2 separate regions of the Homo sapiens genome follow, and region 1 is linked to region 2. Evidence: fine-mapped QTL for protein levels in blood plasma. A gene starts in region 2. The other region holds a variant in brackets. All regions are shown on one strand. Distances are between the middles of the regions. Region 1 overlaps CA6 (carbonic anhydrase 6). Region 2 holds the start of CA6 (carbonic anhydrase 6).

Region 1 (2,909 bases), 23 kb after region 2:
GCCTGGTTAACAAGGGTTCTCCCCAGCATCTCAACGAACGTCAACAACTAAGGGGTCCTACAGTATTTTCTGTGTGCAGGGCTACTGTGCCTCGTCTAGCCAACCTTTTTTTTTTTTTTTTTTTTGTGAGACAGAGTCTCGCTCTGTCACCTGGGCTGGAGTGCAGTGGCACGATCTCAGCTCACTGCAACCTCCGCCTCCCAGGTTCAAGCAATTCTCCTGCCTCAGCCTCCCGAGTAGCTGGGACTCCAGGAGTGTGCCACCACGCCCGGCTAGTTTTTATTTTTAGTAGGGACAGGGTTTTATTATGTTGCCCAGGCAGGTCTCAAACTCCCAGGTTCAAGCAGTCTGCCTGTCTCAGCCTCCCAAAGTGCTGGGATTACAGGTGTGAGCCACTGCACCCGGCCATCTCCTTTTCTTAAACTTTTCATTTCCTTAGAAAAAGGTGGAAAAGACCCCTGCTCAAGGACACTCACACTCCAAAATGTTGCCAGTCAGGCTAGAAGTGCCCCCAGACACCTGACAAAAGCAAATGGTAAATTATCTCTGGGAAAATGACCTTAAATCCAGACCTAGAAGAATTTTCACAAATAAAGTTACTTGAAATTAGCTCAATTAAGAAAAAAAAATACAAAACATATGAGAAAAAAAGACATTATAGATGAGAACCAGCAGAATCAGACCTACAAAGACTTCAGTTAGTGGAATTATCAGACAATTAATATGACATAAGAATGTTTAACATGTATAAAGAAATAAAAGGTTTAAATATGAGAAAAGAGCAAAAAAGTATAAAAATGGACATCCAGACTTGGGACAAAAACTCAAATAGAATTTCTAGAAATGGAAAAATAGTATCAAAAATTAATAATCCAGGCCAGTTGTGGTGTCTCATGCCTGTAATCCCAGCACTTTGGGAGGCCAAAGTGGGTGGATCACCTGAGGTCAGGAGTTTGAGATCAGCCTGGCCAACATGGTGGAACCCCGTCTCTACTAAAAGTACAAAAAATTAGCCAGTCGTGGTGGTGGGGCGCTTGTAATCCCAGCTACCCCAGAGGCTGAGGTGGAAGAATCACTTGAACCTGGGACGTGGAGGTTGCAGTGAGCCAAGATTGCACTACTGCACTCCAGCCTGGGCAACAGAGCAAAACCCTGTCTCAAAAAAAAAAAAAGTTTGCTGGGCACGGTGGCTCAAGCCTGTAATCCCAGCACTTTGGGACGCCAAAGCGGGTGGATCACGAGGTCAGGGGTTCGAGACCAGCCTGGCCAACATGGTGAAACCCTGTCTCTACTAAAGATACAAAAAATTAGCCGGGCATAGTGGTGTGAACCTATAATCCCAGCCACTCAGGAGGCTGAGGCAGGAGAATCGCTTGAACCCAGGAGGCGGATGTTGCAGTGAGCTGAGATCATGCCATTGCACTCCAGCCTGGGCAACAGGGCAAGACTCCATCTCAAAAAAACAAAAACAAAAACCCAATGAATGGGTTTAACGCATGTTAGATACAGTTTGAGAGAGAATTAGTAAATTGGAGACAGCCAATAACATTATCTAGAATGCAGCACAGAGAAAAGGAGATGGAACTATGAAAAGAAGTGAAGAGACATTGTGTACTGGAAAGGTCTAGTAAATGTCTAATCAAAATCCTAGAAGGAGAAGAGAGGCAGAGTAGGGAAGAGGCATGATTTGACAAAATATTGGCTGACAATTTTCAGGAAGAGATACCAAGTCATATATTCAAGAATGCCAATTAGTTTCTCTCTCTGTCTCTCTCTCTCTCTGGGTGTGTAGATAT[G/A]TGTGTGTGTGTATACACAACATCCTGCAGTAAACGCATCACATTGAAATCATCAAAGACAAAGAAACTATTTAAAAATTAGCCAGAAAGAAAAGACAGATTATCATGAAAAGAGTATTATTAGACAGAGAGTTGATTTAACAGCCACAGTGAAAGTCAGAAGGGAGTGGAAACATAATTTCAAAGTGCCGAGGGAAAAAAAATAGCCAATATAGAATTGTATGTGCAGCAAAGATGCCTTTCAAGGATATAGACAAAATACAGACATTTTCAGGTCAGGTGAGGTGGTTCATACCTGTAATTCCAGCACTATGGGAGGCTGAGTGGGCGAATGGCCTGAGGAGTTTGAGACCAGCCTGGCCCACATGGTGAAACCCCATCTCTACTAAAAATATAAAAATTATCTGGGTGTGTGGGTGGGTGCCTGTAGTCCCAGCTAGTCAGGAGGCTGAGGCAGGAGAGAATAACTTGAACCCGGGAGGTGGAGGTTGCAGTGAGCCGCAATCGCGTCACTGCACTCCAGCCTGGCGACAGAGCGAGACTCTGGTCTCAAAAAAAAAAAAAAAAAAAAAAGAGAAAAACCTGACATTTTCAGAAAAACAAAAATTGAGTTTGCCACTTGATATATTTCTGCTTCTTCTTTCTCTCCTTTCTACTACTGGACAAATACTCATATAAAAAGCTGAAAAGAGAGCTTGTGTGCAGATACCTGTTGGAAGAATGCACGGATAGATTAGTTCTGGAATAATGCCTGAGACACAGCACCCAGAACCTCCCCTGGACTTGAGATCTTCTTACAGTCACTTCATCAGGGTTATATAAATCCAAACTCTAGCCCAGTTGTTAATTCTTTTTTATTTTTTATTTTTTTTGAGACAGAGTTTCTCTCTGTCTCCCAGGCTGGAGTGCGGTTGCGTGATACTGGCTTACTGCAGCCTCTGCCTCCCAGGTTCAAGCGATTCTCCTGCCTCAGCCTCCTGAGTAGCTGGGATTACAGGTGCACACAACCATGATCAGCTAATTTTTAGTAGAGAAGAGGTTTCACCATGTTGGCCAGGCTGGTCTCCAACTCCTGAGCTCAAGTGATCTGCCCGCCCCAGCCTCCCAAAATGC
Region 2 (2,909 bases):
GGGCGTAGTGGCATGCGACTGTGGTCCCAGCTACTTGGGAAGCTGAGGCAGGAGGATTGCTTGAGTCCAAGAGAAGTGAGCTGAAATCGTATCATTGCACTCCAGCCTGGTGACAGAGAGAGACCCTGTCTCAAAAAAGAAAGAAAGAGAGAAAGAGAGAAAGAAAAGAAAGAGAGAAAGGAAGAAAGAAAGAGAAAAAAGAAAAGGAAGGAAAGCTGAGGCACAGAGCGCTGAGTTGCCCATGGTCACACAGTTAGCAGGTGGCACAGATCCTGTCTAGTTTCAGAATCCTTGTCCTTGAACATGCTTTGCTCTCTCTCTGAGATTCTTTCAGCTCTTGAGCTTTAGAAATGGAAGTTTCCAGCAAGTTCTTTGCAGCAGCTGATGTTCCCTATTAAATGACAGTGGGGAGTCTTAGAAGTATTCGGGAGGCCTACGTTCACCGCTAACATCCTTGTTGTGAAGGCCTGCTGACGTTTGCCATTCCAGGACCAAGTGGACAATGAGTTAAGCTAGGCCAGGAGGGGGTTCAGCTCCCCATAACAAGGCAGGGGTGGCCCTTTGTGTCCGGCAGCATGGTAGCCCCCCCGCAGGAGCTCCGGCTACCCTTTGTGTTTGACCTTGTGGAAGGGCATGGGAAATGCTGGCCTGTCAGCAGGCATAAACTCAAAAGTTTCTCCTTCAGCTAATTTCAGGGACTGTCTAGCCAAGTGAATACACAGGATTAGGTAATCCATGGATCCTGCGAGGGCAATTGGCTGATTGGCTTAGGTGTGCCCAAGAGCCCTGCAGGTGTCAGAACAAATCCATGTAGAAATGCAGACGCCCACACCAGCTTGAATGGCATAAAGGCACACATTGGAATGTGGCTCATGAGCTGGGACCCAGGATCAACCACTGGTTTAAGGAGAGGACCGTGAAATGTCCAAACATGGAGGCCAGGCCACCTCCCTGGATGCCTGGCTGAGGGCAGCCACATGTCTGCAGCGGTGGCTTGTGTCCATGACTGAGATGGGCAGGGTTTGCAGGCAGTGGTGATCCCATCAGCAGTCCCCAGATCTCTAATGTCAGGAGAAAGAGCATGGGAAGTCCGACGTCCAGGAAAGTCTTTCATCCTGCTTCTCCCTGCCTTGGGCCTTTTCCCATTTCCGCGGTCACCTGTCCACAATGGCTGCACTGTGTGGCTCTTCAGGTGTTCCTAAGACACTGAACAACCAAACCCATGGACTGACCGGATATGAAATTGACGTGGGAGGAGATCAGGCAGGTGCTGGGGCTGCCTGGCGCAATGCACGGAGCCAGAAGTGCTGTTATGGGGAGGGTGTTATTGTTTTAGTGGGTGCAGCAAAGGGTGGTTTAGCCAGCTGGGCAGATCAATTGTAAATTGTTATTTACAGTTTCTGAGCCTTTAAAAGAAGAGCTTCGCCGGAATCAGTCTTCATTACAGATGTGCAGCACCATGAGGGCCCTGGTGCTTCTGCTGTCCCTGTTCCTGCTGGGTGGCCAGGCCCAGCATGTGTCTGACTGGACCTACTCAGGTGAGCCCCTAGCTTCTGCATGCTCCCCCAGTTACCCTCACACCCTTACAACAGGACAAGTGCCCTTCTTCTTCTTCTTTTTTTTTTTTTTAGACAAAGTCTTGCTCTGTTGCCCAGGCTTGAGTACAGTAGTGTGATGTTGGCTCACTGCAACCTCCGCCTCCCGGGTTCAAGTGATTCTGCTGCCTTAGCCTCCCGAGTACCTGGGATTACAGGTGCCTGCCACCATGCCTGGCTAATTTTTGTATTTTTAGTAGAGACAGGGTTTCACCATGTTGTCCAGGCTGGTCTCGAACTCCTGACCTTAGGTGATCTGCCCATCTCCCAAAGTGCTGGGATTACAGGCATGAGCCATTGCGCCCGGCCAAGAGTCCTCCTTTAGGGCATTTCACAGGATGGCCAGGCAGCCCACTTGCCATATGTTGGGGGTCTGCTCATTGTGGCTTCAGATGTTACCTTTTCAGTGTCTCAGAAGGTATGGAGAATAAGCTGAACTTAAACTTCAAATAAGGAAAAGAAGGAAATAGCTTTCCCCTTCACAAACTCCTGATTTACTTACAGGCTTTTTGCTTTAAATTTTTTTCCATCCACAGTGTTGGCTGGTTCAAAAGCACACTCACTGCTTCTATTTGTAAAACCATTTGCTTTGTTGGTCCGTGTAAGTGGAAAACAAAGTTCTTAGAAAAGACTCTCGGTAACCTCACGGAAGGTGCTGTGGGGTTTGCGAGACCTTCTTTCTTGGAAATTTCATGGTAGGCAGTTTACCCAGAACATCTTGACATAAGGACCCAGTTCCCTTTGATCTGTGGGCTGCCAAAATGAGAGGTGTTTTTTTTTTTGTTTTTTTTTTTTTTTTGAGACAGAGTCTTGCTCTGTTGCCCAGGCTGGAGTTCAGTGGTGCCATCTCGGCTTACTGCAACCTCTGCCTCCTGGTTTCAAGCGATTCTCATGTCTTAGCCTCCCAAGTAGCTGGGATTACAGGCACTCATCACCATGCCTGGCTAACTTTTGTATTTTTAGTGGAGATGGGGTTTTACCACGTTGGCCAGGCTGTTCTCAAACTTCTGACCTCAAGTGATCCGCCCACCTTAGCCTCCCAAAGTGCTGGGATTACAGGCGTGAGCCACCGCGCCAGGCCCCAAACCAGACTTTTAAAATGTGAAATGTAAAATCCTGGCATTCAACATGGGTTCTGGTCCACATGTGAGCCAAAGCTAGAAGGCCGTGTCTGTGGACTTTGTGGACACTAAACAGCCCTTTCCAGGGGCAGTGAGGAGAGCTTCTTCCCGCATCCCCCTTCTTTCCATACGGGACCATGGATTGGGGCCCATGAGGAGGCTGGTGGCCGCTGGCTGATGCAGGAAGTGAGAC

The links. PIP is the posterior inclusion probability: the model's chance that the variant is causal. The UK Biobank Pharma Proteomics Project read protein levels with antibody pairs (Olink). The fine-mapping took linkage between variants from a reference panel, not from the people measured, so its PIPs are less certain.
Region 1: its variant is fine-mapped to the plasma level of the CA6 protein (UK Biobank, PIP 0.93).

The regions. Positions count from the first base shown.
Region 1 is chr1:8,967,859-8,970,767 of GRCh38, forward strand. All of the region lies in intron 6 of CA6 (carbonic anhydrase 6), which reads left to right. Among named protein-coding and RNA genes, the nearest start is that of CA6, 23 kb to the left of the region's middle. The variant G/A (reference allele first, on the strand shown) is at 1,797.
Region 2 is chr1:8,944,428-8,947,336 of GRCh38, forward strand. CA6 (carbonic anhydrase 6) reads left to right here and starts at 1,441. Exons shown (of 8, transcript NM_001215.4): 1 at 1,441-1,538. The coding sequence starts at 1,460.